Linked DNA regions of Homo sapiens: region 2 is linked to region 1. Evidence: fine-mapped expression QTL. Tissue or cell type: whole blood. Region 1 holds a variant in brackets; the other region holds the start of a gene. All regions are shown on one strand. Distances are from middle to middle.

Region 1 (5,289 bases):
TGTTTTTAATAAATGGCGGAAACTAAATACTTGTATTGACACAATCTGGGAATCAGTTATACTTCAATAGCATTTCTTATTGTGATTCGGAGATCTAAACAGTAAAAGATTTATCTACTAGAAAATGTCCCACGTCATGGAGTTAATTTTTTTTTGAAGTTTTGACTGATAAGCTGAATTATTATACATACCACCTTCTGATTCTGCTGCACCCAGTGGAGCTGAAAATATTTACAAGGGTGTCCTTATTTTTTTCTCCAACATACCTATAAGCGGCATTAAATTATTCTACACTTTATAAGCAAGGACGGTTTGGTATTTGAGGTTCACACTCCTCTAGCATCACAAAACCATTTGGCACCAGCCTCAGGAAAGTAAAAGAATCTTAAATTAGGCTCATAAAATTGACCTGGTTCTAAAGAAAGATAGCCACTTGATAGTAAAGGTACTACGAGCACAGGGCTCTGCTTATGAACAGTAACACTTATTGACTGCTTCTGATGTGCAGGCACTATGCTAATCACAAGTATTAACTCATTTGGTCATTAAACCCATTTTATAGATGAGGAAACTGAGGCACAGAGAGTTTAGTAGCTTCCTTGAGATTTACAGCAAGCAAGCAGTAAGCTAAAAGCCAGGAAGCCTGTCTCCAGAACCTTGCTTTTACCCTGGTCTTCTTCTCTACATATCCCACCTTTCTATTTCACTCTTCAAATGTTGCCTTACTGAGTGATCAAGCTCTTCCTCAATTCCCATTTGACCTTTGCCTCCTCACCAAGAGCCAAAAACAGCTGAAAATGTTTACTTTTATTAAAATAAGTTTACTTAGGGTAGCAAGGACTCTAAAACTCAAGGCTAGCAATTAAGCAAGTGGAGATTCCACACAAAATGTTTATTTGTCCCAAGAGAGTCATTACAGCTCTCTTAGCTTAAGAAAGTGATACAGTATATGCTTTTGAGGGTTCCACATAACCCACATGTCAGCTGCCCCAGTTGGTATTCACCAGAGAATTCCCTGCATCTAAGGCCTTGTGCTTATGTTGTAAAATGTACTAATGGATATTAACATTATGATAATGCCAAAAATCAAATTCCAAAGGCTTATCCCAGATACATGGCTTTCATCAGCTACACAAACCTCAGGGGAGATTTTATCAACTGCTGATCAAAGGAAGCAGCAGGAGCTGATACAAGCACAAGACAGGGCATGTGGAGTGTCCTCCACTCAAGTACACCCCAGAGCAGAGCGTCTCCAGGAGTTGAGACAGCACATCAGCAACTCAATTGTAGTATTCAAATGAATGGAGTTCTCTTTAAGGGCAAGTCTCTGAATAGAAAGTTTAAAATCTGATCCTGATTTAACATGACTATGCCCTCACCTGGATGTATATTGCTGTAAGAGATACCTTACCCATATGAGGGTCATGTCAACTTGCTTCCAAACATAAATGAAGTGAAGCACAAAATCATGTGACTCCTCAAGTGTACTTAGCTCTGCACAGATAAAACTGCTTTATTTGGAATCACGGAAAAAGAAGAGGGAAGGGCATCTGCAGACCATGCAGCTTATTAAACCAATTTGTTTCCTGAGTCAAGTACTTGAGGTACTCTCAGTTCTAATTAATGTCTCTTGCAAATGCAGCCTCATAACTAACGTTCATTCTTCTAATCGTAGCCATATGTTCCTTCCATCGTTTTAATGATATAAATGGAAATTATTGGTGTTTATCATTGAATATTTCTATTTAAAAAAACATTTTTTCAGGCTGATGCTTTATGCTAAGATCAGTGGGTGAGAAAATCCCTCTCTGGAAATATTTTCTCACTTCCTGTAGTCCATAAGTGAGGCCTTATTTATGGTTTTTAAATATCGCATTAAGAATTTTGCCTCCATTAGATCCATGCTACTAAAATGGCAGAACTCTTCACATAAAAAACAGAGATAAACTGAAAAGGGGATAGCTGAGTCAAATATACAGCCTGTAGGTTGAAGTATAATCATTACATCTCGCTTAAGGCAAGAGAGGTTGATAGTTTACAATAAGCTTCAAGAAAATCACTTGCTTATTTCCAGAAGCCAATAGCTTAAATCAAATTCCTTTACCTTCTCTAAATATGCCACATATGTTTTCATTTTAAGAAGTACTTTTTATGTATGTGACTGTAGTAAAAAGATATGTACAGATATACAAGATTTCAGAGCTGGAAGAGACCCTAATGATCACCCAGTCAGGTGGTCCATAACCCTCACTGTGTACCCTAAACAACTGATGAGCTTGCAGACTGGTTCTTCACCAGAGAAATTATAATTCAATTGCTCTGAGGTGGACCCGGTGGAGCCAGATATACTGTTTTGCAAAAGTACTCCTGGTTATTCTAATATGTGGTCAAGCTTGAGAAGCACAAATCTTGTTTATCCATCTCTTTTGGAGCCAATGATATTAAATGATTTATTCAATGTCCATAGACAGTTATGTTTGACAGGGGGGAGACTATGAGCTCAGGCTCA[A/T]AACCCTCACACCTGTGCATTTTCTTTTATCGTTTACTAATACTTCTTTAATCCATGCTTTTAAAAATAAAGTTAATTTAGCAATAGAAATATCTTTTAAAACAAGACAAAATAAAACCTAGAACTATTCTTCCATTCCCTTTTCAAGGGTCTGTCCCCATCTTTTATTTTTTGTCATTGTAATCTCTCCAAAGTGCCAGCTGTGTGTTAGAAGGTATCACTGTATAACTCCAGGATTAAAGTAAAAATATTAGTAAACCATTCCAGAATCGCCAACAGTGCAAAACACAAAAGAAAGACTCCTATTTACCCTTGTATTAAAATATAACAATAGCAGCCAAATCATCATTCCGTGGCAGGAACTGTACTCAAGTGTTGGATCCAGACCATCTCACTGCATCTCAGCAAAAACTCTGTGAGGTCATATATTACTGTCATCTCAGTTATACAGATAAGAAAGCCAAGGCACCAAAATTTATTTCCCCAAATAAATTCCCCCAATTTAGGTAACTTTGCCTGGCTAGGAACTGGTAGTCAGTTTAGTCTTTTTTTTTTTTAAGTTCAATCTTAAAATCACAAGATGAAACTGTCCTTCAAAAGCAGCATTTTACCTTTACTCATAATAAACTAATATTTACAAAGCATTTTTAAAAGAACATTATACTCCTTTCTCATCTGATCTCATTTAAGTATTACAAGATTTATTTACCATAATCATTTTGTTAAAGAGAAACTAAGGCTTAGGGAATACTCAATGTCCTCCCAGGTAGTAAGTGGCTAAACCCAAATCAGAGTTTTTGTTATGATTCTATGTGTAGTACTGCACTCCAGCCACCATACAGCTTTAAATCTGAAGATTGTTTTCCTGGCTCTGATGAGTATTTCATATGGTCAGTTCTGCTAGAAAAACAGTATAAAACTTACTTCAAACAGCCAAAAAACAAATTCCTTGCTGTTCAGATTAAACTGTTGATTGTGCTGAAATTCACGGGTACACTAAGAAACAAAATAAACTGTGTCAAATCTCCCCAAAGATTTTGTTGTGCATTCTTTTATTTTTATTCACATAATCTGTGTTTACTGAGCTGCAGTAAAGGATGCATGGGCTATTTTTATTCGGAGAAAGGCTATAACACCAGCCAAGCAGAAGGACCCATCCATGACCAGAATGCAATGGCCTTCATTATCTTCCAACTCACTCCTAAATGACTCACTGAGAGCTGCCAGATGGTGTTTTCTCTCACCCCTTGCCTTGCATTTATTTAATTATTTTAACATAGTTTTTGTTCTGCTGCCATGATGCCTAATAGGCAGATATATTTGGGAGTTAGTTTCTTCTTCTAATATTGACCAGTGCATTTAGAAAATTTCTCAGACTCTTTAATAATAACACTTATTGGGTACGTACAATATACTAGATGCTAAGCCAATGGATTTGTATATATTCCTCATTTAATCATCCAACAACTCACAAATGAGGAGGCTGAAGTTTAGGGAGGTTAATACATGTACCCTGGGCTAAACAGCTGGTCAAAGACGTAGAGTCAGATAATTGGAACTAAGCCCCCAATCTTAATGTAAGACTTATGTGGTAGAAGTTATAAGCACTAACACTTTGGGGAAATAAGGAAACATAATAAAATGATAAAGAAACCCAAAAAGTTAATATTCATCTATGTGGAAACCTATCAGGTAGGTGACTAAGTCATCAAGAAAATGAAAAGATGTGTGGTAGACCTGGAGATGTGCTGCCCTCACCCCCCGTGCAGCTGCAGGGAGAGCTGTCAGGAGGCAGCCTCTAACATGGGACTCCTTTGGGATCTGCTTTAGTGCAGGGAGCCACCTTGTTTGCAGTCTCACCCTGTCTGAGGCAGCCTGCACAAAAGCCCAGCCATCCTGACTCATCAGCAATATTCTCTCTAGAGACACCTACTGGGTTGGCCAAGGCTTTGCCAGGTCTGCTTCACAGTGTGAGATCTTTCTCCATCCTATCTTGCTTTCAACCCTACTATTCCAGATATTCATTCCTTTTAAACCTTCTTCATCCAAAGGTCTGAGGAACCAGAGCTGTAACAATACTTCAAAGTTTTTGACAAAGAATAAAAATTATTTTATTGCTAGTTTAGGAATTTTTGAGTCTCAAGAATCTTTACATGTAAACATACCAAATAATAATTTTTATGGTAGTCTCAAGACATAGAGTTCCCCCAAATTGGGGTAGAGGCTTGGGGTGTGAAGGTAGTAAGAGGCAGGTACCTACTTAACTCTTCTTCAGACTGAATTGATCAGGTAATTCAGAACCACATCTGGTTTTGACAACATGCTCATGATATATCCCCCAAATGGAAGCCTATATAAACTACCTTATCCTCCTGGGTCTATAGTGTTCCTAGTTGCTGATTCCATATTATTATTCTAGGCAGTCTGATGTATGTACCTATGACATCAGTTCCATATCAGAATATTTCTACAAAATTACTTCCAAGACAGTTTTCAAATATAAAGAGATTATCCTCAATATGCTTCAACAACAATCAAACCCTATGCTATGTATGGTATCAATATTCTAAATAGAAAGCATTGACTGACACATGATATAGAATTATCAGAATCAGTCTCTATTCTCAGTCACTTTTCCACCCTCAGGTAGCCTCCTTTAACATCATGCCTGTTCTTAGTACCATTTTACTCTCCATTACTGTCAACTTTGTTTTATTAAGGAGGTCATGGTAATTAAGCCATTTCAAGAAAATTCTCATTTTTAAGGAAAGGGAAACTTG
Region 2 (5,289 bases), 110 kb after region 1:
AACGAACATAAATTTTCAAATGACTGAAAGCCATGATAAATGGGATATAGTCTTACTCTAAAATATGGGGTTTCTCATCATTAATTATATTCTTAATTATCAAATCTAATATTTTGCTTCTGCCTTCTTGCATTTCTAAGACAGTGCCACTTTATTTTCAAAACATTTACTGTTTCTAACTTGAGAATGTTTCCGTAACTTTCTATCGGGGGCTGTGCAGAGTTCTCTTTATGTATGTGAAGCACATTATCGTTGAATAAATATCATTATTCTCCCAATCACACTTCCCCAGCTCAGTAGTTTTATGGGCCCCAGTGAACCACAAAAGCCTAAATTGTCTAGAATCAATTTCATAGTTTTTCCTCAAAACCCCCCAAAAAGTGATCAGCAACAGCTGTAAGAACATCAAGGACTCATTGCATGAGAAACACGAGCAAAACACATCAGTAAGAGACAAATGCCTTTTTTCAAGGAATGCAAAGAGGTTCTAAGTAGTAGTCAAAGACAAGACAAGTTGACTGCCTGGAACTTGTACTTCAGCATGGAAGCACTGAGCACCAACACGGAATTCCGAAGGAGAGTAATTAAGGGAGGCCAAGACAGCAACCATGGGTCAGAGTTTGACACTAAGTCACAGTGTGGGTGGCAAGGGGAGAAAGATATGACTGAAGTTGCTCTGAAGTGTATTTAGCAAAAGCAAGTGAAGCTGTATCCCAAATTGGCAATCATTTTACATATTTCAGCCAACTTTGAGCCCTCTAGTCTCCGTTTCCATACCCTGTTCAACAAAATCACACTGCACAATTTCCCTACAAAGCTAATGCTTATGACCTGGTGAATATCCTACTATATGAATCATTCTTATGTGATGATAGATAGATTAAATAGATGGATAGATACATATATATGTAGATCACTGCTCAGGGTCCTATTATACAAACTTTTCTGCACCTCCACTTCTTCCTTAATAATAAACTTTGAAACTCCCTGGATGACATTGATCTAATTCTATTCTTCTTGATGACTTCATCATATTATTGATATGCCACAATTTATCTAACCATTCTCTTACCAAAGGATATTCTATTTGCTTTATCTTTTCGTTCATTTGCTACCACAAATTATTCATGCAACAAGTCTTAATACACTCTATGCGCCTGTTCAACTCCAGGAATAGAGCAATGAACAAAACAAAGTTCCCACTTTCCTAAAGAATCCATTCTAGTGGAGGGGACAGGCACTAATTTAATATGTAACATAATGTTATATTTTTATGAAGCTAAACAAGGGGATACAAAGTTACAGGAAATTTCTTATTACTTTAAATGGGGTAGCCAGGGAAGAGCTCTCTGAGGAGGTATTTGATCAGAAACCTGAATGACTTGAGGGAGTAAGCCATGAGGCCTGTTAAGAGAGGAGCAATCCAGTCAGAAGGAACAGCAAGCAGCAAGCACCCGAGTTCTGAGGGAGAGATACTCAGCGAGACTGGGAACACTTGTGAATGCCACTACAGTAAATGCAGAGTGACAGAAGGGCAGGAAAAGGGACCAGACATATATCTTGCCCAAGGTCCAGGTGATGCAGTGCCTGGTAGGCTATAGAAGGAACTTCAGCAAATGCCACAATAAATATCCACATATATTGCTAGATTCATCTCCAAAAAGGCTATCAGAACTCACATTTCTATGAGCAGTCTACAAACATAGGCAGCCAGGTTCCAAAGTCTATGCAGCAGCTGTTTGTCAGCCGTTTCAGTTTGCTTTTAAAAAACATTTATCTATAACTTGAAAAAGTATTAGGAGAGTGAAATATCTGTATATAAAAGCTACACAAATGCAAATATTCTTGTTAGTTTATCACATCTGTCAAACCCAGAAAGCTCTGTATATTAGACCCATCAGTGGGAAACCAGACAGTTTCACAGTGAAAAAAAATCTCCATCTGAGAAAAATAAAATAAAATTCTGGTATAATCTCTGGTCCAGTTACCTCTGGAGAAATAGTTGACAGGACTAGAACTGGGGACTACAAATTGGCAGTGGCCACACACAGCTATAGGACAGAATAAGTTGCTAAGAGGCCTAACATGTATCATCATGAGATAGAATTTTCTAGGTTGGAAGGAAATGGTCTTTTTAATATGCCAAAATGTTGACTTTCAACTATAATCATAATAAAGCAATTTATATCAATAAAAATACATAAAATGGGTAAAAATAAAAGCTAAAGGAACTTGTTTTAGTTATTATTGTCCAATCTTTTCTTAAAACCTCTGGTTTCATCTTCTTCCACTGACATCTTACATTCTGTGAAGGAGGAAGTAGGGGGGATGGAAACGGCTTTAAAGAAGCACAAAAGGCCTGAAGGTCAATAGGGAGGCAAATACTCAAAGAATGAGAACCGCAGATATCTAATAAAGTCTATGTTGCCTTTTCATGCAAAAGGCATAAGGAATGCTTAATCATCTAATATTTACAATGTAGGAAAAAGCTATTTCACGTTGAAATTTGTAGCATTTTTGGGTGATTATGAAACCCTCATTTAAAATAGCCATGTATCCTCTATTTAGCAAACCAAGACTACAAGAAATCTTAGACATGATATTAATACCCCAAAGTTTAAAACTCCAGATGTGAAGAAAAGCCAGAGAATGCCTGCTGTGTAATAAGGCCTATATCTCTTTGGAATCATGGATTTAATTAAGTTTCAATTTGCATCTTGGGCAAAAAGATAGACTGTTAGAATGAAACAAAAAGAAAGAGGGAAAAAGCCTTCTAAAAAACAAAGTGTCAATAAAATTTTAGTTATATTCTCTAGCCATCATTTGGCTTTTAAAATTCTGATAACATTCCCTCAAAAAACAAAGCATTTCCTTTTGTCTAGACAACATAACCTGCTTCTGTCTCAGATAGGCCACTTGGGAACCCAGGATCTGACTCATTTCCCTCACACCATATATGATTCCATATAAAACAGGGCTATATGTCCCTTCCACAGCCCAAATAGGGATCCCCAAAAGGCGGTGCTTCCTATCATTCTTGGGCCAATGTTTTCACCAAGTTCTGTTTGAAAATGTATTTGTTCCTGTTTTCTTTGCACTTACCTTGTGAGGTCTCATCTCCATGACATCTGACAGTGGCTTTGGGTGTTGCCTAAAGAGAAAGCAGCAAGCAACAGTTACAGAGGTGGTTTCCTGTGGAGCAGGCAACTTAACACAGCTAAGTTCAGGTCATTCTCTGAATACTAAAACTGAGAAGTCAACGATAGTGTAATATCAGATAGCTAAATGTTTTCACTATACCCACACATGTAGTAAAGAATTTAGGCTGCTGAATTTTCTTTAACTACAGGGTTCTGCTTTTCAAAAAAAATGTTTTCAACTTACAAAGACTTTTATAACAGACTGCCTTTTTGAGAAAGGAAAGCCTTCTTTCTTTATATTATCCAGGAACCATTATACGCATCCCATAGAATGTATTGCTGATACTTCTTAGAAGTATCTTCAGAAAAGGGTCTTATCTTATATTTATTATCTTATATTTATTTATATATTTATTATATTATATTATATGTTATATATAAATATATTATATATTTATATAATTATATATTATATATTTATATATAAATAAATATATTATATTATATATTATATAAATATTTATATTTATATATAATGTATATAATATTATTATATATTATATATATTTATTATATATATAATTAATATATAATAAAATTATATATTATATATATTTATTATATATATAATTAATATATAATAAAATTATATATTATATATAAATATATTATATATTTATATAATTATAAATTATATATTATATATAAATAAATATATTATATTATATATTATATATAAATAAATATTTGTATTTATTTATATATAATATATAAAATATTTATATATTATAAATAAATATAAGATATAAAATACCAGTAAAATGTGTTCCTAGGAGTTGAATATATGCATGCATATGGCATTTGCTTGTTTGTTCATTGATTCATTTATTCATTCAATGAATTTACTGAACATATATTGAGTTTCTCTTTTTTGTGCCCTGAGGATATAACCACAAATAAGACATAATCTCTGTCCTCAATAAGTTCATAAAATCTTATGATTTTATGGGAAATCACAAGATGGGAAAAGAAAACTGGACAAATAATTATGAATATTATGTGAGAATTACAACAATAGGAATTTATATAGAATACATTGGGCCTCAAGTGGGGAAACGGGCATTCTAATTAGCGTAAAAGAGCTGATCAAAGGAGTTGATTCTTGAACTGTGGTAAAGAATATTGTGTGGTCATTTTTCATGCAAGGAAGTGCATTCCCAGCTGGGAGTCTAGCATATTCAAAGATCCAGAGGCACAAAACAATATAGCACTTTCTGGTAACTGTAGCTAGTTCTATATTGATAGAGTGTAGAGGACTCTAAAAAGGAATAAGACTGAGATATTAGCAAAATGATTTTTAACATCAGGAGGCATTTCTTTCAGAGAACAAAAATAAATAACAAGTATATCCATGAAATACTTCTTGAGAAATATTTTGGTTAAAGATTGAACACTTTGAAGAACAATTAAGTATGAAGCACTTCAATACTTTGGCTCATGTCTGAAAAATACATAGATATTGCATATTTTCACAATGGCAAATATTCAGACTAAGTGCTAACACATGAAGCTGAACTAGATTATAAAATACTAATCTCTTTTGAGGAAACTATATTTTTATGTATCAGAATGGCTTAGAGCCAATAGAAAATTACAGCCTGTATAATAGTGTCTGGCACAGAGTAGGCTCTCAACAAATAGGTGTTGATGGAAATACCACATTGAGGCAGCTTTTGGCAAACAAAGAAATGCTTTGGGCACCAACCCAGGCTCTCCAGCTTAAAACTGTTACTGCTCCTTCTGCAATTAGAGACTTTTTCCCTTGTGATTCATAGAGTTGCATTCATTATATCTCTTTTTGGTCTCTGCTCCTAACTAACCTTCCTCCTAGCTCACACCTACCTAGAGATACCTGAAAATGTTTTCTCTAGGTATGTCTGGGCAGGTTCGAAGGATATAGCTATTATATCATTGGCCTTGGACATACAAACCAAAGAGGCACAGTTGCAGTTGCCAATATTGGTGGCAATTCAAAATGCTCAAATAAAAGGGGAAAAGCAAGAGATCCATGGACAACCACAATAAGAGAAGCAGAGCATCTCCCCCTTATTCTACCTTCTACCATTTGGGTGCATCCAGTTGGGGTAGA

What was found. PIP is the estimated chance that this variant, and not a neighbour inherited with it, causes the effect.
Region 2: it holds the start of LINC01934, and the variant in region 1 is fine-mapped to the expression of LINC01934 in whole blood (INTERVAL, PIP above 0.99).

Annotation. Positions count from the first base shown.
Region 1 is chr2:181,230,488-181,235,776 of GRCh38, reverse strand. All of the region lies in intron 2 of LINC01934 (long intergenic non-protein coding RNA 1934), which reads right to left. Among named protein-coding and RNA genes, the nearest start is that of MIR4437, 73 kb to the left of the region's middle. The variant A/T (reference allele first, on the strand shown) is at 2,510.
Region 2 is chr2:181,121,794-181,127,082 of GRCh38, reverse strand. LINC01934 (long intergenic non-protein coding RNA 1934) reads right to left here and starts at 3,246. Exons shown (of 5, transcript NR_130784.1): 1 at 3,103-3,246. RefSeq lists an enhancer at 2,880-2,979.